Linked DNA regions of Homo sapiens: region 1 is linked to region 2. Evidence: fine-mapped expression QTL. Tissue or cell type: whole blood. Region 2 holds a variant in brackets; the other region holds the start of a gene. Each region is shown on its reference strand, or each on the opposite one.

Evidence for each region. PIP is the estimated chance that this variant, and not a neighbour inherited with it, causes the effect.
Region 1: LINC01781 starts here. The variant in region 2 is fine-mapped to the expression of LINC01781 in whole blood (TOPMed, PIP 0.96).

What each region holds. Positions count from the first base shown.
Region 1 is chr1:80,528,919-80,541,831 of GRCh38, reverse strand. LINC01781 (long intergenic non-protein coding RNA 1781) reads right to left here and starts at 6,077. Exons shown (of 3, transcript NR_125941.1): 1 at 5,890-6,077.
Region 2 is chr3:71,436,131-71,449,043 of GRCh38, reverse strand. The region is part of intron 3 of FOXP1 (forkhead box P1); the gene reads left to right. Among named protein-coding and RNA genes, the nearest start is that of MIR1284, 100 kb to the left of the region's middle. RefSeq lists enhancers at 4,539-4,678, 5,069-5,178. The variant A/T (reference allele first, on the strand shown) is at 6,154.

The sequences.
Region 1 (12,913 bases), not on the chromosome of region 2:
AATAAATTTTGCTTGAACAGCTCCTCTGACAGATAGCTTGGTATCCTTTGATTAAGTATATTTTACTTCTTGACATCTCTAAGAGAAAGTTATTTGTTTTTAATTGAGACTAAATATGTCAAATTGCTTTCATACCTGGCAACTATTTCCTGATCCTTTCTACCATCGTCTTCCTTTTTCTGGGCAAAGCAAGCTTTCAGAGTTTCAGGTATTTTAGTTATACTTATTTTTCTTGCCTAAAAATATTCCAGGAGAATATCTATCTATCTATCTACCTATCTATCTATCTATCTATCTATCTATCTGTCTATCCATCCATCCATCCATCTATCTGTCTGTGTGTGTATGTGTGTGTCTTATATTTAGAACTAAATGTATTATTTAACTACAATAAAATGATTATCTTTTGTTTTAAATATTATAATTCTGGCATTTCAGCCTCAAACTTCATTACATTGTTGATGATCATATCAAGTTTATCTTACTTTATATTAAATCCACATGTCTTAGTCTCAGGTGATTCTGCTAAATCATATATACCCACCATAGATTACTGCAATATCTTTTTTAGATATAATTTCCAGGATGCTAAATTATGTTCTGTTACTTCTGATGGTGAGTAGTAGAGAGTAAGCCAGTAAACCATAAAATAAAAATGTTATGTTTTCTTTTCTTAAATATACTTCAAGCTGCTTACAATGAGAAGCCATTTGCTTTTTTACCTGAATTCCATTACATAATGAACTTCAAAGCAAATAGGTGCCCATTAAACACCTAAGATATGATGATGATGATGATAATGAAATGATGATTTGTTTATATGTATTTATTGTTCATATATATGTATGTATAACTACATTTGCATATCCATTGTGAAAATACATAGAATCACTGTCCAAAGGATGACCTGCTCAAGATTTTATTAACATATATGTGAAGATGCATTTGACATACTCATAATATTGAGAAATAATAAGACATGCCCTTTCTGTAAATGGCAAGGAACACATACTTATTTGAGTCACTAGCAGGGATGAAAGATTTTATCATATTGTGAAATACTTGATGTTTTGTGTTTCCAGCACAGTAGTATATCTTAATCTTAACATAGTATAGTTAACTGAATATATTTGACACATTTTCCTCTTTCTAATGTTGTGCTTAGTTTTTCATGATGTGTAGCCATGAGACCTACCTTATTTATCATGTATTTCCATCAGTGCTTTATTTTCGACCTTTCCTTCTTCAAAAGCAGAAAAAAATCAAAGAGGTTACAAAAGGTAGTACTCCTTTATGCTATATAAACTTGAACCAATCTAGTGGATTTCTGCTCTACTAGTACATCACTTTCTCCTTTTATCTTGGTAGAGGGTTAGTTTAAATGTCATGATTAAACAAAAATGTTTTTGTATGCTGGCATATTCCCAAAGTTCTGTATCATGTTCAGATCACAAAGATTAAGGCATATTTTAACAGATAATGCAATCTTCTGCACTTTAAGAAAAAAAATTTAAAAAACACACCAACTGTTTCAGTCCGCAGTGTCACAGAGAACAAAATCTGTTCTACTTTAAAGACAAAGGGACTTATCACAGGCAATTAGTCACAAAGGCACACTTTAGAACTTGACCATCAAGGAGACTGCTGCCTCAGCCAACCATGATTAGGCAAGATGTGGAATCAGAAGGCTAACTATAGAATTGGGACATTTCAACTATATTTGCTAGTCCAGAACTGCACACCAATATTACACTCTCCAGCAGCAAAAATGGACACTTTCTGTCCTGCCTCTCATTCCATGAAGCTCTAAATCGAAGTCTTACTTCCAAAACCATAATTATAAGGGAAACTATACATTGCATTAAAAAAAAAATCTTGGCCAGGCACGGTGGCTCACGCCTGTAATCCAGCGCTTTGGGAGGCTGAGGGGGGGTGGATCACTTGAGGTCAGGAGTTCAAGACCAGCTTGGCCAATATGGAGAAACCCCATCTCTACTTGAAAACACAAAAATTAGTGGCCAGGCGCAGTGGCTCACGCCTATAATCCCAGCACTTTGGGAGGCCGAGGTGGGTGGATCACTTGAGGCCAGGGGTTCGAGACCAGCCTGGCGAACGTGGTGAAACCCTGTCTCTATCAAAAAATAAAAAAATTAGCTGCACATGATGGTGTGTGCCTGTAATACTAGCTACTCGGGAGGCTGAGGCAGGAGAAACGCTTGAACCCAGGAGGCGGAGGTTGTGGTGAGCTGAGATTGCACCACCGCACTCCAATGTGGGCAACAGAGCGAGACTTCATCTAAAAAAAAATAACAAAAATTTAAAAATTAGCCAGGCTGAGACAGGAGAATAGCTTGAACCCTGGAGGAAGAGGTTGCAGTGAGCTGCAATGAGCCGAGATTGCGCCACTGCACTCCAACCTGGGCAATAGAGCGAGACTCTGTCTCAAAAAAAATATAAAAATAAAAAAATCTTTCCAGTCTTTTCAGCAGAAGAAAACATACTAGAAGGGGATTAGTGTGCATATTAAGCAGGATGGTCTGTATTATACATCACATCAAGCATTTATTTTCAAATGTTCATGTTGACTGATATTGAAAATAATCCTGTGTATTAAGAAATATCTATCGTAATTCAATCCTAGATTATTAAAAATTAGATGTTCACAGCTTCTAAAACTAACTTATTTCCAAGTTACCCTTCCTGTTTTTCTCTCTTATCGTGGGAGAGGAAGTGAGCCCCCTGAGGGGAGCAACATTCTAGACAGAAATAAAAACAAGGGAAAATAATTTTGTCTGTATTTATTTTTATTAAAGAAAAAAGAGGAAGAAGAAAAAGAAAAGAAAAGGAATAAAAAAAATAGCACAGGTAAGCCAATGGCACTGGAGAAGAGTAAGTAGGAAATTAGAAGAAGGTGAAGTCAAAGAAGTTATGGAAGAATAGATTAAAAATAATCTTGTCATCAAAAGGAATTTGTCTCTTTTACTCAGATAGGAAGCCCTTAGGGTTTTGAGCAAAGAAGGGATGAACTCACTTGACTTCTATGTTGAGAACAGACTGCAGGGAATACATCATGGGTATAATAAGGCAACTAGTTATCATACTAGTAATATGGGAAAACAATGATAGTGAAATGGATCAGGTTGCTATCAATGGAGGCAGGTTTTAGAAGCAGTGATGAGTGTTTAACGTACATTTTTAGAGCATTTTACATATTTAGAATTAAAAGTAGTAGACACTGTAAATTGTTTTGAAAATTAGAAATAGATTTAACATGTAGGGCATTTGGTTAACACAATTTAGCATTCTTTACTGATCAGAAGATGCATTGTCAGTTCATGTGTAAGAAACAAAATGTCACTCAAAATTACAAATATATTGTTGGGTCAGGTATAGAGGAAATATAATTTCCAACTTTTGAAATATCTTGGCTGAATTAAGCAATCTATACTGTTATAAAGAACAAGATAAATCTTCAATGTCTCAAGTAAAATACCTTACTATTGGGAAGACCATCTGTATCAATATCAGGAATGTGTATATGGATTTCCAAAATTTTTGGTGATAGTAGAGAAAACTTTCCAAGGATTCTTCACTTCCAGATGACACTGTGCAACTGAGTGACCCCAGCCAATACAGCCTATTTTACTGATGGCTGACAACTAAGATTTTACATTTAAGTATCTTATTTTGCAAGTCACTTTCATAAAATGTTGAGAGTGATTTACAAAGCCTTTATGATTTGGAGGAGAAAAAATCAGTCAGAAAACAAAAACACATCTCCCTAAATAACAATGTTATTTAAATCTTCTACCATACAGAAACTACAGGTTTCTAAGGGGTATGAAATGCATCTTGATCTACTAGTTACTGAAAGCATAAAACTAATTAAAAAATAGAAAAAATAAATATCCTTGCCACATGAACCACATTTGATTTAAATTTGGCACTGTTAAAAATGGGATCAAGCACACAGAATTTCCAGTGTGTTAGATGCTAAGAAAGCCAGTTGTTGATAATCAGAAGTAATATGAGGTAGAAATTCTGTTAGTGAAGAAGACAGGTATAGCCTAGGATAATCCTGCTAATTAAAGCGTAACAGATTGCATGTCTTCTAGAAAAGAGGGATTCAAATATCAAATAACTTTGTAAGTAGCTGCTCAATAACTGGAGGTAACTGCAAGTCAGTGGTAGAAAGGAAGAACTGTAGAAGGAACCAATTAACCAGAGGCAGTTCAAGTTTGCAAGGACAAATCTGAAGGTTTCTCAAATAATCATGGGTTAATCTTAGCAGGAAGAAATTAAGAAACTAATATGTATAATATGAGCTTTAATCAATTTATTGTGAGAAAAGATAATTAAGAGAAAAGAGTTTTCTAACAAATGAGTAGGGGCATGCATAATAACTTGAAAATGATTAGGATAGTTCATTTGTATACAGTTCACTTCTCTAAAAGAAAATTAGGAAGAGAAATATAGAATATTAAGGCATAATAAAGATCTTATTGAATTAGTAACTGCATGATAGGTAGTAAAAGGAATGCAAGGGAGGTTTAGTTATTTAGATATATTAAGCAGCTGCTTTACAAATAAAATGTCAGAGGCTTAAAAGTGTTAACACAGTGTCAGTATCACCTCTACCCCTTACTGGGTGTTTGACTAAAGACTATGTCCTCAAACTTGCTGTGATCAGTTTTCTCCTCTATAAAGTAAAGTTTAAAATAGCATTTACCTCTTGGACTTGTGATACTTAATCTGTACAAAATGGTTAGAAAAGTCTGAGGCACTTAGGGAAGATTTGATAAATGTTAACTATCATCATCATTATTATTGTTATTTTAAATTATTTCTTTATAATTAAGCAGAATCTATTACGTTGATGATTGATTCTGCTTTCTACGTTATATAGAATCTGAATTAATATAACAAATATTTGTTGTTTGCCTGCATTATTTGAGACTCTGTGTTAAGTGCTGGGGTAAAAACTGACCAAGATAGACACAGTCATTCTCTTTAGGCAGTCTGACTGGGGACATGTGCAATTAAGTGAGTTGAAGTGGAAAAAACAAATGCCTCAAGAGAGTCAAATGTGGATAAAAGTGCTTTAGAATCGGGCCTTTTCAAACAGTAACTTCAGAGATCTGGCCTGGTATTTGTAAAGCTAAGGAAGCTTTCATTAAGAGGTAGAAGCCTTAGTTACTGCTCTTTTCTTAATCTAATTAAGTCTAAGGAAATATACTTTGAAAAAGTGGCTGCGAGATAACACATTATGCTGGGAATTACGATAGGAAAAAGAAAGGGTCCTGTGTAAGAATCTAATGGAGCAAGTAAGTGTTCTGGGAAGAGGGAGCGGGGTATGAATAATCACAGAAACGTAGTAAGAAAATTATATTCTCTTAATTAAATATTTTATAGGCCTATAATAGGAGTATTATATTAAAATACACTCTTTAAAACTTGTGATCTACTAAAAAAATAGAAAGATTGATTAATAATATTGAAAGCCTTAAGAACATAAACACTGAGATATGATAACTATTATTGAGGCTGCCTTTGACAAAAAGAGGGAAAAACATTTTTAAAACATAAAAATAATTGAGGGAAAGAAAATTCTACTTTGATATAAGAAATATCACAATAATGTTTTATCTCGTGTTTTTTTTCATAAACTCCAATCTTAACAGGATTACTATATGACATTACTGTAAAATATCTTTTCTCTTCCTTCCCCACTTTCACCACTCCATACAAGAAAGTGCCACATGTGGTCATAATCTGAATAAATGATAGAGAAAAGCAGAATCTACTCATAAAACTCAAAAAATAGAAGTCTTAGAAATAAGCATAATGTAAATTGAAACTAGATGTCCCATTTTAAAGACAACACCTTACCTTGACAAACGCTGTCAGGAAACACCACATTTATTTCAGAGCAGAACATTTTTTCTCTATTTCTTCCCTTCCATCCTACCTCATGAGGAGAATATTATACCAGTAAATCTCAAAATCATCTGGAATATAATTTCAATACGTGAAAAAAATCTGTAATTTGTCAATAGTCTATTTAAAACTAACACTCAGAAAAAATGGCAGCACACTAAACATTATGTGTCTAGTTAGGAGCACTTAAGACATCATTGTTGAAGTCCTTTCTGTTAACATTTAACCTCCTGGGGTTTAGATAATAACTTATTCATTAAACTGCTAACTCCCTTTCCAGCAGGATTTGCCTATGAATTTTTAACTGGGGCCGAACCTCCAGATGTCTTCCTCCTCCAACTAAATTCTTACCATTTCTTTTCCATGCTGCTCACTTCTTGCTTCCCATAATCAGTTAGCATCTAAGAGAGCCCAGTTTGTGTGGCTCCCCAACTAAATATATCATTCTGAAATTATTCTCTCCACATAAGTTCAGTACACATTAGGGCTATAAAAATATTTCAAGTTCTGTATAGGATGTATTCTAGGCTCATATTTACTTATTTTTTTCTCCATGCTAATTACTCTGTTTTTCACATTATTGAAGTAGAGTAAAATGGTCTCTTAACACCCATCTGTAACTCTATTTTCTTTTATGTTCAGATTCCCTAAATAGCCTCACAAGATGATCATTCCTTTCCATAACCTCTAAGAGAAGATCTAAGAAGGAGCTATGAAATCAAAGACCAAAGATCTGACTCTTCTGTGAGTCACTCTGCCCTCTACAGTGACTGTTCATTACTTAATTTTACAGCCTAGTGTTGGGGTCTGCCTTCAAATGTTCTGTGTCGTGTCCAACACACTTTGTCATTTTCTTTCTAATCCTTGTGATTATTATTGTTGTTATTGTTAGCTTCCTATGTAAAACTAGTTCTCAGCTTGATGATATAAAAACTATTTTAGCCATAAATGTATCTCTTGTATTTATATAAAAGGAAAAGGAGTATTTTAAACACTTCTGACAACTAATAAAGCCAGGTGTGTGTGTGTGCATGTGTGTGTGTGTGTGTGTGTGTGTAGAGAGAGAGAGAGTGAGAGTGAGAGTTTAATCTAGGTGTTAACCCTGGGGTCTTGGAAAAGTTCCCATTTGAGTAATTGAATTTTTATTAACTCACTTCCTCTTGCAGGTATTTTTCATTTAATGCAGCACAGTGTTCTGTATTATTTCTGGATGCTAAGTTGTTGCTACATTTCTCCCTGTGGTGACTACATTTCATCAATGAATAAAGCCGTAACTGATACATGAAATCATTTTATTTTGATATATGTGCTTTGGAATCCTCCCCTATTTTAAAACAGATACTGGAAAAGAAAAGACAGATGATAGCAATATAGATAGAGGAAACAGATATCTGGGGGATTCCTATTATTGAAAAAATAGTCTTATTTGGTTTTGGTATTATCCCCTAAATTCTGTAGACTTTTGTTTCAGAAAATAAAGAAAATGAATGGATTCACTCATTTATAGGTGATCCATTTAGGGAGTCCTTGGGAAACAATAGTGTAGACTTAAAAAAAAATGTAATAGGAGATAGATCTGGCTATTTTTTTTTCTTGTCCTCTGAATAATAGCTGGTGACAACACAGATGTTAAACACAAAATATTACAGGGATTAATTCATAGCGCTCTAGTTTTCATCCAAGGTCATGTGCAGTGCAAACAATAAGTTCCAGCCAGGCAGTCTGTAGTGGCAATTAAGGACCACCTAGGGTGGGGGTGAAGCTGAAGGTGGCTCTGACCCTAGGAGGTCTACAGTCACTTCAGTGTACCTCCTTGGAATGCCTTCTTGTTCCTATAAATTAAACAAAAGTGAATTTTCTCCCCTTTAGGGAACAAACAATCCATGCCTCAGATCCTGCAGCCTAAGCATTTCCTCCTTTAGAATTGCAACTGAATCTCCTCTAAACAGCAATTAGCATTTTAATAGTATTAATAACATTCACGATTTTAACAATCTGAAGCTTTCTGCTTTTTATTGATGTCTTTTGTTGCAATTTTGTCTAATAGTGTGCCCAGGGTAGCAAAATATAACCAATTAAAACATTTGCCAAACAGCAAGGAATCTGGAAAGTTTCAATGCTGCTCGACTAAAAATGAAAATGGTTGTATGAAAATAACATTTCCAGCCAACAAGACCAGGGGACATACTGGCAGTCCTTTATGTTACGATTCTGCTTCAGAACTAGGGTAAATCGTTCAGTGTTACCTTACTAATGTCAGATTAGAAAAACCAAAGCTGGCAGTCTCACATAGAGTCCCTGGAAGCCTCAACTCCATATAGTTTACAGAAAGCATAAGTATACAGAAAACTGGGTAGTTTTAGTTTAGTATAAGATTGCACTATTTGTATGGAATCTTAATTAGATTCCTTGGTTATATATTCTCAAAACACCTTGTGTTTTTCTTTCAATTAACACAGCATATCTACTTATACAGTAAAATATTAACATTAAATACTTACTATGTGCTAGTCAATGAGTCAGCAATTTATCATGAATCATTTAATCTTCACAATAACTCGAATACTGAGGTCTATTATTAACCTTTCATTATAGACACTGAAGCTTAAAGATGTGATTTGTCCAAGGTTAAAGAGCTAGTCAATGATAGAGCAAAAATACAAACCCTGGTCCCCCTGCCGTCAGCCTATAACCTAGTGTGTACTTTGGAGGTATAGGGAGGAGGGGGGTTGGTTTTATTTTGTTTTGTTACAATGTCTGCCTCAGTGACAAGGCTCTAAAATTGAAGAGAGAAAGAATTGTTCCTGTTTGCTTCACTGCTTTCTCTCTCTAAATTAGCATGGTGCTGGGTGCATAGTAAGAGACAGCTGGATCTTTCCTAAATGAATGAAAAGTATGCATAGATTTGCCTTGTCTAACTAGATTATCATTGGGCTTTGTTTTCTTGCTTGGTGTCATTTATATCTTCTATGTTCCTGATTCCTAAAGGAAGTATACAGAAGTTTGAGCATTTATTGGTGCTTTATCTTCTTGGTAATGTTCATTTGCTTCTAAAGGTGCGTGTTTATATATATGAATAATGTTATATCCTCTGTTCGTTCCAAAAAAGTATTTAGGGTATACGGTTCTAAGAATTTATTCTGCCATTTGTGAAAGTTCTTGCTTTCCACAATTAATCATCAATTTCTCTATTTCCTAAATTTCTTTTTACTTTTTACTTTTTTTGGACAAATTATTCCAATTCTATTACTCATCTGGCTATCCCATTATGTCAAAAGACTCTATATAATTTCCTATATTTGAAATAAACTATCACTATTTTAATAGGCTTTATATAGTAATATCCTGAGCTGAATTGGGTCAGATTTGGGTAAGAGCAACACTAAAGTGCTCCAAAACCACTTCTTGTAGCTCCTATTCCTTCCAAATAAATACTTGTGCTTGTGTATACACTAGCCTGAGAGAAAAAGGTCACCATAAGAAATGGTTTTGGAGCATTTAAGTATTGCTCTTACCCAAATCTGTTGCTCTTACCAAATTCAGCTCTTACCAAATAAATTCTTAGGATCATATACCCTTTGATAGTCATGCTTCTCAAATTTAAGGATCAGAATCACCTTGGGGGCTTTTTAAAATACAAGTTGCAGGGCCCATATAGGAAAGATTCTGATTAAGTCTGGGGTGAGACTTGATTATTTGTATTTCTAACAAGGTCTCTCATGAGGCTGCAAGATTATACTTTAAGTAACACTGAACTATATAGAACTACATTGGAAATATATAAACTATATTAGAGCAGTGGAAGGTTCAGAAATCAGACATTGAGAAGAGTCATAGTAATGCTTCTGATTCTCTGCTATCTGATGCCTCAGCCTCAGTAGACCAGTCATCTAGTCCTAGAGGATGCCATCAAGCAGTGTGATGCTCTTCAATGTACCTCTTACAGGAAATATAGAAAAGTAAAAAAAAAAAGAACAGCTAGCAATTCTGCATCCAACTCTTGTATTCCTTCCACAGTTCTGGATTTGAACACGATATCTAATTCATGACCTTGTTTTTAAACATATTAAGCATGAAACAAATATATTTTTATTAAACATATTAAGCATGAAACAAATATATTTTTATTATTTTTTAGCAGATGGCTATTTAATATTTTTATTCAGTTTCCTACTCATAGTGGTTGCTGTTGCCAAACCTTTGACTCAGCCAACCATGCTCCTTTCTTTGATTTATTAGGCTTTAAAAAAAAACTTTGTCTTTGTAATTTATATGATTAGGAACTCCAGGAAGAAATGACAGTCCAACCCATGGCTAAGTATATGCTCTGTACTTGAGTAGTGAAAAGTTAGTCCTCGTTAGACTATAACTCCCAGCCCAAAGGTCCACATTAAAACAAAAGCAACTAAGAGTGATATCACTCATGCTGATCCAATCTGTGTAGAGGAAAAGAAGTGGGCCTGACTTCCATAATTTCCTTGGTATAACCACAACACAGCATTTACTTCTTGGCATTGACTCTACTGAGTTATTGAATCTTTCACTTGACAGGAAGCTCTTTGATGGGAGGAAAAAAAACCTCATCAAACAAAACCACAGTTTCTTTATCATTGTGTCCCTAGTGCATAGCACAGAATTTAACTCATTGTGGGTGCTAAATTTCTATTTACTAAATTAAAACCAATTCCGTCCTTGAATGACAATTTCTATTCTAATAATATTTTAACATGGGATTTGAGTACCTTCAAATTCCAAGGGAAATTGTGGTAGAGAAGAAATAATGAATTTCCACTTTAAAAAGTTCAAAATTTTCCATGTTTTGTGTGAAAACTTTAAAGGCATTAAAAATTTTATATTTATAATAATTATCATGAATACAAAACTCCAAAATAATTTTGTTGCTATTCAGCTTTTAAAACAAGCTTCCCTTATTCTCTTTTGATCCATTAAGATCTGAATGAACTCAACACCTAACTTTTGTTGTTACTGTATGAAGTACTAGGCATTCTGAAGTTGTACATACTTTACATCTAGCTTTTGCTAGCTAGGGAGCTCATTAACAGTTACTTCTTCTTGGCGAATAAACTGCCCCATGAGAGTAAAAGAACTGCTTAATTCATAAGTTCACATTCTTTTAAGAGGTCACTTAACCTTCTAAGTCAATTATAGGACATTAACAATACTCTGCCTCCAACAATTATTTTTCTAGGTTATGTAGATATAGCTGTTTGAGGCCTGACCAGATATATTCAGGCTCTATCACTCAGGTCTGTCTGCAAAGGCAGGGTTAAATCACTTTCTACTGAGATTCAAGATATCAAGGGAAACACTTCACAGTTATTTTGACTGCTGTAATATCAATATTCAACATGATATATGGAAATAATGAAAAAAACTAATAAAATTATTCTTTTTTATTAAGCTAAGGCAGCGATTGTGGTAAGTGCAAGAATACTCCAGGCATCTGAAGTATTCTTTTAAAAGAACAGAAAACATTAATAGCAGATAGGTAAGTTTCCTCTTTCTTTACAGTATATCTCAGTCCTTTCAAGAGTGAAATGGAAAGAAAGGTGCTGATCTTGGCATAGTGTTGTTGCATATTAATAGGAGCAGTCATAAAATGACTAATAATAAATGTGTTAAGTATCACAGAAGTAGAGACATAGGCATGGTCCAAACACATTAACACCTGCATTCTAAATTAATCCTTTTTCTTTCCAGAGGATTATAAATATGAGCCATTTCAAGTGTAGACTTCCGAACCATATAAAGTAAGCTTCGGCAATGTCAGTCTCTCTTAGAAAATAGACGAGTGGGAACCTTGATTACATTTATCCAGCAATGTAAGGAGATGAAAGTAACCAATACCTTAAGCCACCTAGGGTTGCATATTTTGACTAGTATAACTCTAAAACTTGAAGAAATGCTTGGAATTAATATTTTAAAAAGTTCTTATGCATCAAGAAATGTGATTCATCTACTAAAGTTTAATCTGTAATTGAAACATTATTCTTCAAGTAAAAACCGAATAGATTTAGGGCATGGTTACTATTTTTTAATGTTATTGTTAGAACTTTGAATAATGTTTCAGTAAAGCCACTTAAACATTACAAAAGCACACCACACCTGATACTGCGTTGTCAGCCCCATGTTCTATAATTAGTTGGTGTTTTACCTGATACCTTATTAGCTTTCAGAATTGCTATTTAATTCTTTGCTTTGAATTTACAACATTCACAGAGCACTGCTGAGGGATTTGGAGAGTACTTAAGAAATATGTATTATAAATTGACACCCCTGTATCAAATTTTGCCATTTTTACTTGAAACTACAACTCTAAATTGCTTATTTAAATAGTTTTAGCTTATGTTCCAAACAAACGATGCCTTCAAGGGAATGGAGAATTAGAATCTTGCTACTTTAAAAATGTACCCTAGAGGTAGAGACTCCACATATGGTTGTAGTAACCAAGTCAAAGAGCCTGGCCCAAGTGGCAAATCTATTACTTTGCAAAGAAAGTATCACACTGGCGATGGCTATGAAAATCTGCACATTGTGCTATCTTTATGGAGTGCACGAATGTAAAGTCAGTCAGGAGATAAGGCAATAACTTGGGGTTATTTCTCTCCGGAAAATATATACCTTTCTGTTGTTGCTTTCTATGATTTTTTTATAGTAAAACTTTATTTTGGGCCGGGCACAGTGGCTTATGCCTGTAATCCCAGCACTTTGGGAGGTCAAGGTGGGCGGATCACCTGAAGTCGAGAGTTCGAGACCAGCCTGACCAAAATGGAGAAACCCCATCTCTACTAAAAACACAAAATTAGCCAGGCATGGTGGCACATGCCTGTAATCCCAGCTACTAGGGAGGCTGAGGCAGGAGAATTGCTTGAACCCGGGAGGTGGAGGTTGCGGTGAGCAGAGATCACGCCATTGCACTTCAGCCTGGGCAACAAGAGTGTAACTCTGTCTCAAA
Region 2 (12,913 bases):
TTCTGTTTCTGAACCAAAAACCAGTTTGGGGTTAGGTCTGGTCATAACACGCATTTTGTTCTTTGATTTCATTGGAGCTAGGGTTTGACATTAGCTAATAAACTTTGCATGCCCACGCCTTACTAAGTTGTACAGTTGCAAGTGTCCTCCATGAAAAAGACGTGTGCCGGCATTCCCAGGTCAAAGTTTGCTAAGCAGGTTTCTAAGGATTCTTACTTGCCAGTGATTTGGTTCTGAAATTGTGGCAATGGTAATTTGGTATTCAAAACAGAGAAGTTTGGAATAGGCATCTTAGCTGGGGACAGTAAAGCAGCCGACAGGAATTATCTTTGTTGTAGACACTACCACCATTACCTACTAGTTAAGGTATTTTGCAAAGTGTTCTTGAATGCGTCCCATTTTATTCTTAAGGAAAACTCCTTTTTGCGGGTACCATTATTACCTACTAGTTTACATATGAGGACATTGCTGCTTGGAGAAATTAAATCATTTACCCAAGTTCACAGGTCAATAACAACAGACCCTAACCCATGAGCCAGTGCTCTTAATACCAGTGATCTTAACCACTGTGTAGTCTTTGCTATGTTCCATTAATTGTCCAGGGATATTATTATAGGTACAGTTTGTCTTTTGGGAGAGGTACCAGAATTTCTTTCTTAAGTATTGCTTAAACCTTACCAGTCAACAGCCTTTCTTTGCAGAATGAGGAAAGCATTTAGTGCCCATACTGTTTTCGCAGACTTAATGGAGCAGGATTTTGTACATTTCTTTGTGGAAGCTGTTCAGAGAGGTGTGTGTAAGGGGAAAGGAAGCAGTGGGAATCCTTCACCCTGGTCAGGGGATAAAGATCTCCTGATAGACTAGGAGGTGTCTGTCAGTCACTAAGATTGAAATCTTAGAAGGAGTCTATTTCTGTGCTGGGGTTCCGTCCCCAAGGCTGGCAACATTCACATTCCTCGGCAGGGAAGCGTTGTTTAGAGGCATCAACCCGTGAAGGGTTCCATGAGGCCTGGCACTATCTGATGTGTGGTGTGTATGAATGAAGCCTCTTTCCTCAAAGCTGAAATCAGTTTGAGAAAACTGGAAGAATGAGTCATTTGAGGTTCTTCTCTCTGAACGTGTCTACACTTGTCTCTGGCTGATTCTATACTTGCATAGTTGTAAGTATACTGTATAGATTCTATACTTGCAAATGTTGAAATTTCACTATGATCTTGAGTAGGGTGAAAGAGAAAGACATGATATCCAAACCCCTCTCCCCCTGCCCCATTCTGGTGAGTATTCAAGTTTAATAAAAATATATGAAAAAGGCCAGATTCTTTTAGAAGGGCTTTGCTTCTATCTGTTGCAACCTGTGTCTGAACAGGTAGGGCACGCTGGACGTGGATGAGCTTCCTTTAAAGAACCATGCTGCTAGCGTGAACCTCATCCACACGCTCCCTTAGTGGGTCCTCTCAGTTTCTGTCTGGTAACTGGACATAGGCCTCGATGGTTTCATCTGTCCAGAAGGGAAAAGTACAATGGAATGGGAGCAGGTTGGTATGCAGACCTGTGGAACTAGGCCACTGACCTACTTCCTTCCAGCTGGAGTGATGCCCTTTCAGATCTGACTCCAGCCATGTGGCACCTGGTTGCCAATCACTGCCCAGATTGGCAGGTTCCTCCCTGACTCAGGCCATTCATCTAAGTGGATGTGACTGTTTGTAAGCTCGTTGGGGTGCCTCATAAACTAGCTTGAGAATGTGTAAGGCAGAGGGGCCTGGAAACATAGTGGCTAAATTTAAACAGTCATTCTTGCTGTATGTGTAGACATAGGTGTAGACAGAGGTATTCAGGCCACAACTACATGCTAACTTGTATGGTATTCTAAATAAGGTATTTGGATGATCACTGGCATTTATTTACTGAGGTTTCCTATGCAGAGCCCAGATTCCTGACTTCTTGTAACAAACCAAAAGATGTAGTAACACCAGCCCCTCTCCCATGCTGGGGTCAAGTGCCCATTTAGATGGGGCTTGTCAAAGCTGTCTGTTAGGGATGCATTCCCACCCACTCCCTAGTGTTTGAGTCCCTGCCTGCTTCATCCATTGAATCCATTGAAGCAACTGCCTGGCCCCTATGGGCATTTGAGTTTGCAACCCTGATGGAAAGCGTGTCCTGAAATAGATGTACTGGTATACACAAGTATGTAGACATAATCTGTATTGACACTTACTCCTGCTGAGGAATGTGCAGCCAGATTTCTGGAAAGTGCCAGTTTTTAAAATCCCTTCAATGATTTAAACCTGCTGGAAGCTGTGCATCCCATCTAAACAATGGGATCCATAGAGAAACATACTCATTGGAGAATTACGAGGCATATAATTTTGTCTTTAAATTCTTATGAGTGAATTGTAAGAACATGACTTCATAGGAACCTCTGAGACATTACAGTGTTTTAATAACACTTTGCTGCTACATGCAGTGGTTCATTTTTACTTTTATTAATTTTTTTTTTCAGTGTGTGGCAGCAGGTGCCCTGGGCACCTCAGCCCTATCTCTAGCTTCATCCTCCTCTGCCTCTGGGAAGCCGCCTGGCTCCCTCCCTCCTTAGGGCAGAGGCTCCAGGGGGCATGTCTTGTCTGCGAAGAGTTTACGAGGTTTCACCCACTCCTTCATTCTTGAACATGCTTTTTCTCTGCTTATTACCCTCCCTGTTTCCTCCTGGGCTGCCAACAACATATTATATTACCTCCATCTGCAACCAGAGCTGCTACCACCACTGTGCCCGAGCCTGAATTTTCATAGTTATATTAAAAAAAATCAAGGGTGCCCACAAGTGACAGCAGCTTTTATGGAAGCCAGTCTTAGCAAGATGGCAGAGCACCCATTTCTCCATGAGGCCCAGGCTTCTCAGAGAAGGGCAAGAACTGTCTTCTGCTTTGGCCATCGTGATGACACATTGAATGCCTGAATTCATTCACTCACTCACTCACTCACTCACTCACTCACTCACTCACTCACTCACCTATGAGTTGTTTTCAATAGATACTTGTATGTGTTAAAAGACACACATAGGCCGGGCACGGTGGCTCACACCTGTAATTCCCAGCACTTTGGGAGGCCAAGGTGGGCGGATCACCTGACGGCAGGAGTTTGAGACCAGACTGGCCAATATGGTGAAACCCCATCTCTACTAAAAATACAAAATTAGCTGGGGTTGGGTCACGTGCCTGTAATCCGCAGCTACTTGGGAGGCCGAGGCAGGAGAATCACTTGAACCCAGGAGGCGGGGGTTGCAGTGAGCTGAGATTGCGCCACTGCACTCCAGCCTGGGCAACAAGAGTGAAACTCCATCTCAAAAAAAAAAAAAAAGGTATAAATATCTATTGATAGATATTTATATCTATTATTAATATGCCAGGCATTGTTAATTTCAATACTGTGTAAAAACAGACTTGGGGCATACATAACACAGAAACAAATGGGAAATTTGAATTATAGGGAATTCAACAAAGAAAGGCCCTTTATATAGGGCAAATTGACTTGGTTGAAAGCCATGGAGTTCATACTACCTTAGAATCTTAGAACTTCTTGAGAAGCTCTGGACAGAGCTCATTTTTATTTTCCAGAACCTTTGGGAGGCAGTATATTCCATGGTTAAAATGTGGACTTCAGCATCAGCCCCATTCCGGTTCAGGCAAAACACTGCTGAGCTGCCATTTACATTGCTGGAGATGTGTGTGGCACTCGTTTCAGTTGTGCAGTACACCTCCTTCCCAGCTGTTCACAGCAGCCCTGATTTAGGCAAAACTGAGTTTGAATTCCTGCTTTTGCCACTTACGGTTTGTGAAGCAGCCTGTGTTTCTGTAGCCCTCCCACACTTGGCCTCCTCATTGGTAAAATGGGGGTTATGGCTCTTCCCTCACAGGTACCATGGAGAACACTAAGGACTAAAGGTATGTTGAAGCTATTTATGTCATGCCTGCCACGTGGTCTGCACTCCAGAAGTACTTGCTATTGCTGTTATTGAAATGAAAGATCTCCCTTGCACATCTTCCCCTGCCCGGCCACATTGTGCACTTTGAAAAGGATATCCTTCACATTCGTTTTCCAGAAAATTGAGGTCACTGACTTATTTCCTTCTTGAACCCTCTACCCTCCAGTCCCCATGGCCATCCCCACTCCCCCCAATCCCTTGGGTTAAGTCACAGCAGAGGCATGTACAGAGCATCCCTCGCAAACATCAGTTGCCTTTCTGTCTGCAGCAGGCCTGTTTGATTTTGGCTTCTTATCTGATGTAGGGAAGAAGCCGCACTCCTCTGAGCCTTGGGTAGGCCAGTTGTGGGCTGGCCCGTAATAATACAATTATGAAGGTTAACAGGAAAAAGTGGGGTCCAGGAGCAATTCCAGGCAGCTGGCAGGCCTGCTGAATTGGAAGCGCCCCACCAATGAAAACTGCAGCAAGAAGCAAATTAAACCTCCTATCTGCCATCTCACTCTCTTTTCTCCCCTTTCCTGTTTGGACTTGAAAGGCGATTGGAGCCAGGGCCCTGACAGTTGACGGAAGTGCTGCAAGGAGAGAGTATTTATTTACAGTGAGTCGTGGTGATGCTTGTTCAGGATGCGGTTTCTTGCAGGAAGTTCTGTCCCCACCCCCGGGTTTGATCATTTCTCCAAAAAAAAAAAAAAAATCCTTGATTGTTTGAGGCCTCCTCTCTGACTTGGAGCAACATTGTAGAACCTGTCTGTACTTGGAGGGTTTGCTGAGTGCACCTTTGTAGGAGGGCCTGGAGTGGGACGAGAGGCAGCCAGTGGGCCTGGCTCCCTCCAGATGTGTTCAGGCGCAGCAAAAATCATTAGGCATTGAAAATAGGGAAGTAGGCCGAGTACACGTGTGGTAAGCTGTGGTTGGCGCAGGCCAGTCTGTTCGTTAACAGAAACCAGTGCCAATTGACGTTGATGTACTAGGCGTTTGAGAGAGAAATCACTTTGAGGCAAAGTCAGTAGCTATAGTGCATAGGGAGTGAGTATTTAGGTAGAAACCAGTTGGGCTGGGGCTGGCTGGTGAAGCCCCTCTGAAGGAGGCTGAGTGCCAAGCTGCTGGTCCAAAATGTGGGGTGCTTTTTGCCTTTGGGGGTCTCATAGAATATTGGGAGAGAAGGGTAAAAGGGGAAATAGTATTCTGTTGAAGAGGTTATTTTGGTATATTCTTGGATCATCATAAGGCCACCCTACAATACTATAGAATTTTCTCATCAGCTGAGAAATAGCCTCCATTCTTTATTTAAAAGTATATACAAGTGAGAAAAAAATGACAAAAGGATACAAAATGAGACTCAGCTCCCTTCTTTAGTTTCAGAAATCCCTAGAGCAGGTCACTTGGCAGCTTGCTAGGGATGCAGGTTCTGGGGCCCTGTTGGAGGGAGAGTGGCAGAATCAGAAAATCTGGCATGAGGGCTGGCAGTCTGTGTTTTAACCAGCCCTATAGGCGATTCTGATGGTCATGACTGTTGAGAAGCATGGAGAGAAGGCAGTGGCTTTCCAACTCGAGTGTGCATCAGGGTCACCTGGAGGGCTTGTTAGACCGACAGACGTGAACCCAGAGTTACGGTTAGATAGGCGGAATACGTGCCCATGTCCTGTTCACAGTAGGGCGACTGTCATTAACAATAAAGTATTGTATATTTCAAAAGAGCTAGAAGAAAGTATTTTGAATGTTCTCATTACAAAGAAATGATGAATGTTCGAGGTGATGGATAAGCTAATTACTCTGATTTTATCATGACACCAAATATACATGTATCAAAACATCACACAGTACCCCATGAATACATACAATTATTGTGTGTCAGTTAAAAACAAAATAAGGGCCGGGCGTGGTGGCTCACGCCTGTGATTCCAGCACTTTGGGAGGCCGAGGCGGGTGGATCACCTGAGGTCAGGAGTTCAAGACCAGTCTGGCCAATATGGTGAAACCCCATCTCTACCAGAAATACAAAAAAATTAGCCAGGTGTGGTGGTACATGCCTGTAATCCCAACTACTCAGGAGGCTGAGGAAGGAGAACCTCTTGAACCCAGGAGGCAGAGGTTGCAGTTAGCTGAGATCGCGCCACTGCACTCCAGCCCAGCCTGGGTGACAGAGCGAGACTATGTCTCAAAAAAATAAAAAA[A/T]AAATAAAAAAAGATTTAAATAAAAACTGCAGGTGCTGGAGCCCCACCCTCAGAGATTCAGATTAAGTCCCAAGTGGGGCCTGACAATCTGCATGCTTTCATTTTTTTGAGCAGGCAACTCCGCCTGCAATCCCCTTCTCCCTGGTTTTCCTGATGGAGCAGGCCTGGGCTTTTGACAAATCCAGACGTGGGAGTGACTGTGATTGTTGTCAAAAAAACAAAAACAAAAGAAAAAACCAAGACCATGGAATGGAGGAAGCTTCTCTGTGGCATTATTACTGGGGCCGCGGCTAGTTTGGTGCAGGATGATACTGACGACAGAGAGGACCTCCGTGCCCATGTAGCTTTCTCCAGACATCCCAGCACCCAACTCACTGCGCGAGACTTGCATGAATAATTTCACTAAAATCAGCTGGACGTTCTCAAGATTCAGAGGAAATCACCAGTGTCCTCCTGTGGGTGTCTCCTTGTGTGTTTTAGTTGATCTCTGAATGTGGTTTTTTTTTTTTTTTGGCTTTTTAAGGTCTTCAGCCATTTCTGACAGGTGCTGTAGTTGGCCTGTTGTAATATGCAAAACCTATACAAAGACGTGTCCTTAGTCCCTGTGTCAAGCAACTCAGTCTGGTTGGCTAATGGTTAATGTAGAGAAGTATGCGTACAATGTCAGGGTGTTACAGTATGGAGCTATGCAGAAGGAATGAACAACTGGGGCATCTGGGACATATATGGTCAAGCTCCACAAAAGTGGGGCACCAAGTCTGAACAGGGCTTTGAGGCATGAATATGAGTTCCCTAGATGGTTCAGCTCCTGAGATGTTTAGTGCTTGGGAATTCTCAAAGTTGTGTAGGCATGACTTCTGAATGGGAAGGTTCTGGTGAAGATATCGTTAAGAACGTAGTGGGTGAAGCCCTCTTCATGCAAATAACATCAGGCAGAACAGAGATTTATTATGTGCAAATGACAGTAACCTTTATAAAATCTAGAAAATAATTTTTCCCCAATTTCCCCTCGAATCCAAACATTCTTCTGCAGTCTGAGTGGGGTTGATAGGCTGCCAAGATGTTGAAGGGCCTCAGTGGGAAGGGACTTGGCTAACAGTTCCCAGTGCCAGTGTTCTCTATAGCGTGTCTTGTTGAGCACTGGTGCCCTGGCTTGCTGCCCACAAGCCAGAATGAGTTTGAGAACTTGAGGGTTTACGAAGCAGAGGTAAGAACACCACCCTGGAGGTCTTTAGGACTGATTTAAAATTCCACCAGTGGTACTGACTTTGGACACATTCCTCAACCTCTCCAAATGGTTCCCTGTTAGTGACGCCGGGGGCATCGTAGGATCATTCTCCTAGAGCATTTAGCACAGGGCCTGACATGTTAGTGACTACTCACTCCACTGCCTGCTCACAGGCATGGGTAAAAGGAAGAGCAAAACAAACAAGATGCCTGAACTGCTAGGCCAATCTGGAGCAGAGCTGCTAACTTCAGCGCTGTTGACATTTGGGGCCAGAAAGTTCTTTGTTGTGGGGTCTGTGCTGTGCACGGTGGGATGTGTAGCAGCATCCTTGCCTCTGCCATTCATTCCTGCCCATGACAGTGACAACCAAGACTGTCTCCAGACATTTCCACATGTATGTCCCGTAGGGGTTAAAGCTACCTTCTACTTCCATGAGAATGACTGATCCATAGTACAGTCCCACCTAGGGAGTTGTGCCATGATTTGCAAAGTTATTTACCCTTACTAAAGGCACTGCTAAGCTAGGTCTCTAATCTAAAATATGGAACAAAATTTCACAAGAGGCAGCTGAAAAAAGTTTTATATTATCCTGTTTGCAATAGGGAATGCAGTTACCTTTAAAAAACCTGAAGTACTATCATAGCTGACAGAAAAAGAGAATTCCTAACATATACCTGGTGCATGCTTTCCATTTAATACCAGTTTCACTTTAAAATGTGAGGAACAGGGTAGGGTCTTTTGCTTGTTTAGTTTTCCAATTTTTTGTTCCTTATTCTTATTTTGTTTTATTTTATTTTTGAGACAGGGTCTCACTGTGTCACCCAGGCTGAAATGTAGTGGCATGATTATAGCTCATTGCAGCCTCAACCGCTTGGGCTCAAGTGATCCTCCCACCTCAGCTTCCTGGGTAGCTGGGACCACAGGCACATGCCAGCATGCCTGGATAACTATTTTTTTTTTTTTTTTTGAGACAGAGTCTTGCTCTGTCACCCAGGCTGGAGTGCAGTGGCACGACCTTGGCTCACTGCAACCTCTGCCTTCCGGGTTCAAGTGATTCTTCTGCCTCAGCCGATTCTTCTGCCTCAGGCTCCCAAGTAGCTGGGACTACAGGCATGTGCCACCATGCCCAGCTAACTTTCTTGTATTTTTAGTAGAGACGGGGTTTCACCATATCAGCCAGGCTGGTCTTGAACTCCTGACCTCGTGATCTGCCCGCCTCAGCTTCCTAAAATGCTAGGATTACAGGCGTGAGCCACCGCGCCCGGCACGGTGTCTCACTTTGTTACCCAGGCTGGTCTCAAACACCTGACCTCAAGCAATTCCCCTGCCTTGGCCTCTCAAAGTGCTGGGATTACAGGCATAAACCACTGCACCTGGACTTGTTTGTTATTTTTAATTGTGGTAAAATACACATAACAGAATTTATCATCTTAAATGTTTTGAAGTGTAAGGTTTAGTTGTGTTAAGTATATTCATATTGTTGTGCAACCAGTCTCCAGAACTTTCTCATCTTGCATAACTGAAACTCCCTCCTCCCCTGGCAACCAGCATTCTACTTTGTCTATGAATTTGACAACTCTAGATACCTCATATAAATGGAATCATATAGTATTTGTCTTTTTGTGACTGGCTTATTTCACTTAGCATAATGTCCTCAAGGTACGTGCCTGTTACAGCAGGATTCAGAACTTCCTCCTTTTTTTTTTTTTTTTCCTGAGACAGAGTCTCACTCTCTCGCCCAGGCTGGAGTGTGCAATGGTGCAATCTCCGATCAATGAAACCCCCATCTCCTGGGTTCAGGCAATTCTCCTGCCTCAGCCTCCCAAGTAGCTGGGATTACAGGCGTGCACCACCACACTCAGCTAATTTTTTTGTATTTTTACTAGGGATGGGGTTTTGCCTTGTTGGCCAGGCTGGTCTCAAACTCCTGACCTGAAATGACCTGCCTACCTCGGCCTCCCAAAGTTCTGGGATTACAGGCTTGAGCTGCTGCGCCTGGCCCCTTCTCCCTTTTAAAGGCTGAATAATATTCTGTTGAATGTGTGTACATTTTGTTTATCCATCCTTTGCTGGACACTTGGATTGCCACCACCGTTTAAGTATTGTGAATAATAGTGCCATGAACATGGGTGTACAAGTATTTCTTAAGTTTCTTCTTTCAGTTCTCTAGGGAATATTCCCAGTAGTGGAAATGCTGGATCATGTGGTAATTCTATTTTTCCTTCTTCTAAGTTTTCTTACCTTTTCTTAGCTGAAAGAAATAGAATGCACTGCCCTTCAGACCCCTCCCCACCCTTTCTTGAAGGTTTTCATTACATCACTGCTACCTTTGATTCTTTCTCCCATTCCCACCCTATGCACATGGACACACAGAAAGGTTTTCAGGAACCAGGAAAAGGCAATCGTTTGCATGCATGGTCCCAGGGTTCTGAGCAGCTCTCGTGCAGCCATAATCACACCTTGACCACTTTGTCATCAGGACCTGTGCTGCTTGTAGCCTGAAGTCTGCCCGAGCTCTGCATCTGTGGCAAGGCCTGGCACCCTCACTGCCTGTCTGCCACCTGCATAGGCAGTCCCATCCTTGTGCAATTTAATGAAACAGTGGAGAGGAAGATGAGTTGTGAGAGCAGCGAGCTGGTGTCTTCCTTCCTATAGAGCCTTGGAGAGCGGGTTGTAGCTCCAACCTTAAGGCTCTGTTCCTTGCCTCCGAAGAGCTCCTGTCCCTGCTACCATCCACTCTGCCCTGTGGTCTCCACCAGTGGGGTTGGGGAGGGCTGGGTGGGATGCTCAGTCCTCCAGCCTGTGTAATTTACTTTATATTCCGGTTCTGCATTGACATTCTCAGTGTAAGAAAACAGGAGAGCAAAAAAGCAATATGTTGAAAAGCTTGTATCTATGGAGACTGGTTTTTTTTTTTTTTCTCCAAATTAGACTGAAACCTCCCTAAATCTATATAATTCTATTTGCAGAATGGGCCTACCAAGCCTTGTGATGAGGACTAGATCTTGGCCATCAACTGCTGGGGGGTATAAATGAGGTCCAAAAGACCCAAGGGAGAGGCAGTCTCAATGTTTGGAGACCAAAATTATGTGAGTGGAGGGGAGCCTGGAGAAGGTGGCCGTAAGTCGAAATCCCTACTGTGCTAGGATGCTAAATCCTTTTGTGAGCCAGAGTTTCCTCTGCTGATGGCCAGGAGGATGGAGAGTCAGCCGAGATAATGGAATGCACAGGAACTCATGCCACAGCAGGTTACTCTTAAAGGTGGATAAAGAAGTGGAAATAGGATTAGTCTTGCTGTTTTCACATTTTTGAAAGCAATCCAAAAACACCAGTACTTTCCGGCCGATGTAGCTCATATTAAACGAGGCTGCCAGAAAATGAAGAATAAGGGACAACATTCATTCATTCATTCATTCAGAAATAGATTTTAAGAGCCAAGAATTCAGTGCTGAGCAAAACCAGACACAGTGTTCTTAAAGAGTCTACATGTTATTCCATTCCTGTAATTCCTGTGCGTAACTGAACATGTTAGATGCCTACATTTTCCTGAAGGTAATAAATTGTTCAATTATTTTGTTTGCTTTTATCCCATTACTTTCATATAACTAGTAGAGATAGATTCCAGTGGTAGAATCACATAAATACATTTCTTCTGGAAATAAGTCACTGTTATTGTTTCAATCCATGTTAATTTTCTACCCCTCCCATCAGCAGATCCGTGGGCTCTCTTTGACTCAATTTCGTGTACACAGCTTTTCTTCACCTCCTGGAACCAAGCTTTTCTTTTTGTCTGCAAGTGCGGGTGGGGCCCTGTCCTCTTGAGGCAGCTTGTTTTTCACCTGATCATTTTTTTGGTTTGGGTCTCTTACGCCCCAGCCAGAGGAACAGGCTCTTAATTCCTGTCCAGCAGGGTTTCTTTTTATTCCCAAAGGCATTATGATGATCACAGACTCGGAAGTTCATGCTCCTCCACCCTTTGGGCTTGCGTTTTATGCTGGGTGGAGAGAGAGGATGGTGGAGCCATTGCTGAGTGTCTGTGATACCTTCTTCTTTGGGGAACACTCAGAGAGACCTGGGGTGTTCCTGTGATGGGACCTCATTCTGCTCCCTCACTCTGCCCCAGTCCAGTGCATCTGCCATTCCTGGTGAGTCAGGAGAGCCCAGTGGAGAATGGCTGTTGGCTTCTTGTACCTCCAAACTCTGTATGTATTCATGATTTGTTTTCTGTTTGTTTTGTTTTGTTTTGTTTTGCTTTTGAGACAGGGTCTCATTCTGTCACTCAGGCTGGAGTGCAGTGGTATGATCGTGGTTGACTGCAGCCTCAACTTCCCAGGTTCAAGCGATCCTCCTACCTTCATTTCTCAAGTAACTAGGACAACAGTTGTGCACCACCAAGCCTGGCCAATTTCTGTGTTTTTCATAGAGACGGGTTTTCATCATGTTGCCCAGGTTGGTCTCGAACTCCTAGGCTCGAGCAATCTGCCTGCCTTCCAGAGTGCTTGGATTACAGGAATGAGCCATCATGCCCAGCTCTGTTTTCCTTTTTATACATTCTTAGAAGTGACATTGTTGGATCAAAGAGACTGAGAAACGTTAATGCCAGCTTTCTGTTTTTCAGAATGGTAATACCAAGTTTGTTCTCAATCAGCTTTGTATGTAATGGCCCATTTCCTTAAACTCCAAATAATGTGGGATATTATATGTGAAAATATTCCCTAATTTGATAGGTGAAAAAATGGAATTGTGTTGATCAGCGTTGCTTTGATCGGTCATGGGGCTTACATTTTGTTTCCTGTGTTTTAGATAGATGTCAAAGTTACGCCAAAATTACATTATTATAGCAGACATTTTGCAGTATTCCTGCCTACAGATCACCACTTGCCTGGCTGGCTCCAAGTCGGAGTTGGTTTCCAGGTATTTTGGTGTATTCTCATCATCATTCTCGGAGGATGTGCTCCAGACTTGGTTTATGACTACAGTCGGTTCAGTGCTGTTGGCTTAGTGAATCCTTGAAATTTTTTGTTCTTTTCTTGTTAGTATTATAAGGGCCTATGTGAGTCAGTTCCTTAAGGGTTTTATGGAAATACATGGAATTGTAATAGGGACCATATTTTATGACTCTAAAACTAGGATTTCTGATTTTTATGAGAGTGAGTCATGTTTATAGGGACGATAGATGGGGTATTTGAAATGTGGACTGCAGTGTTAAATCCAGAAGGTCTCATCACCACCAGGGCCAGCATTCCCCACACTCCTCAGACCACAAGTTCGGCGGCACAGTTGTTCCATGCAGTAACTATGCTATGGTGAAAATAAGTTGGAAAACACTGGCTTATACCAGGCTGCATCTTAGGATTTTCAGGTTTTAGCGTAGTAATGTGCTTTGTTGATCTCAGAGGGATTGTGAACATGTGTAAAGTTTTCCAAATGAAACTGCTTTGGAGGTGGCAGGGGCTGTTGCGGGGAGACAATGCCTTTTGATGACCTGAAGAGCCCATACCAGGAACAGTTTGGGAAATATGTAATAGGAAT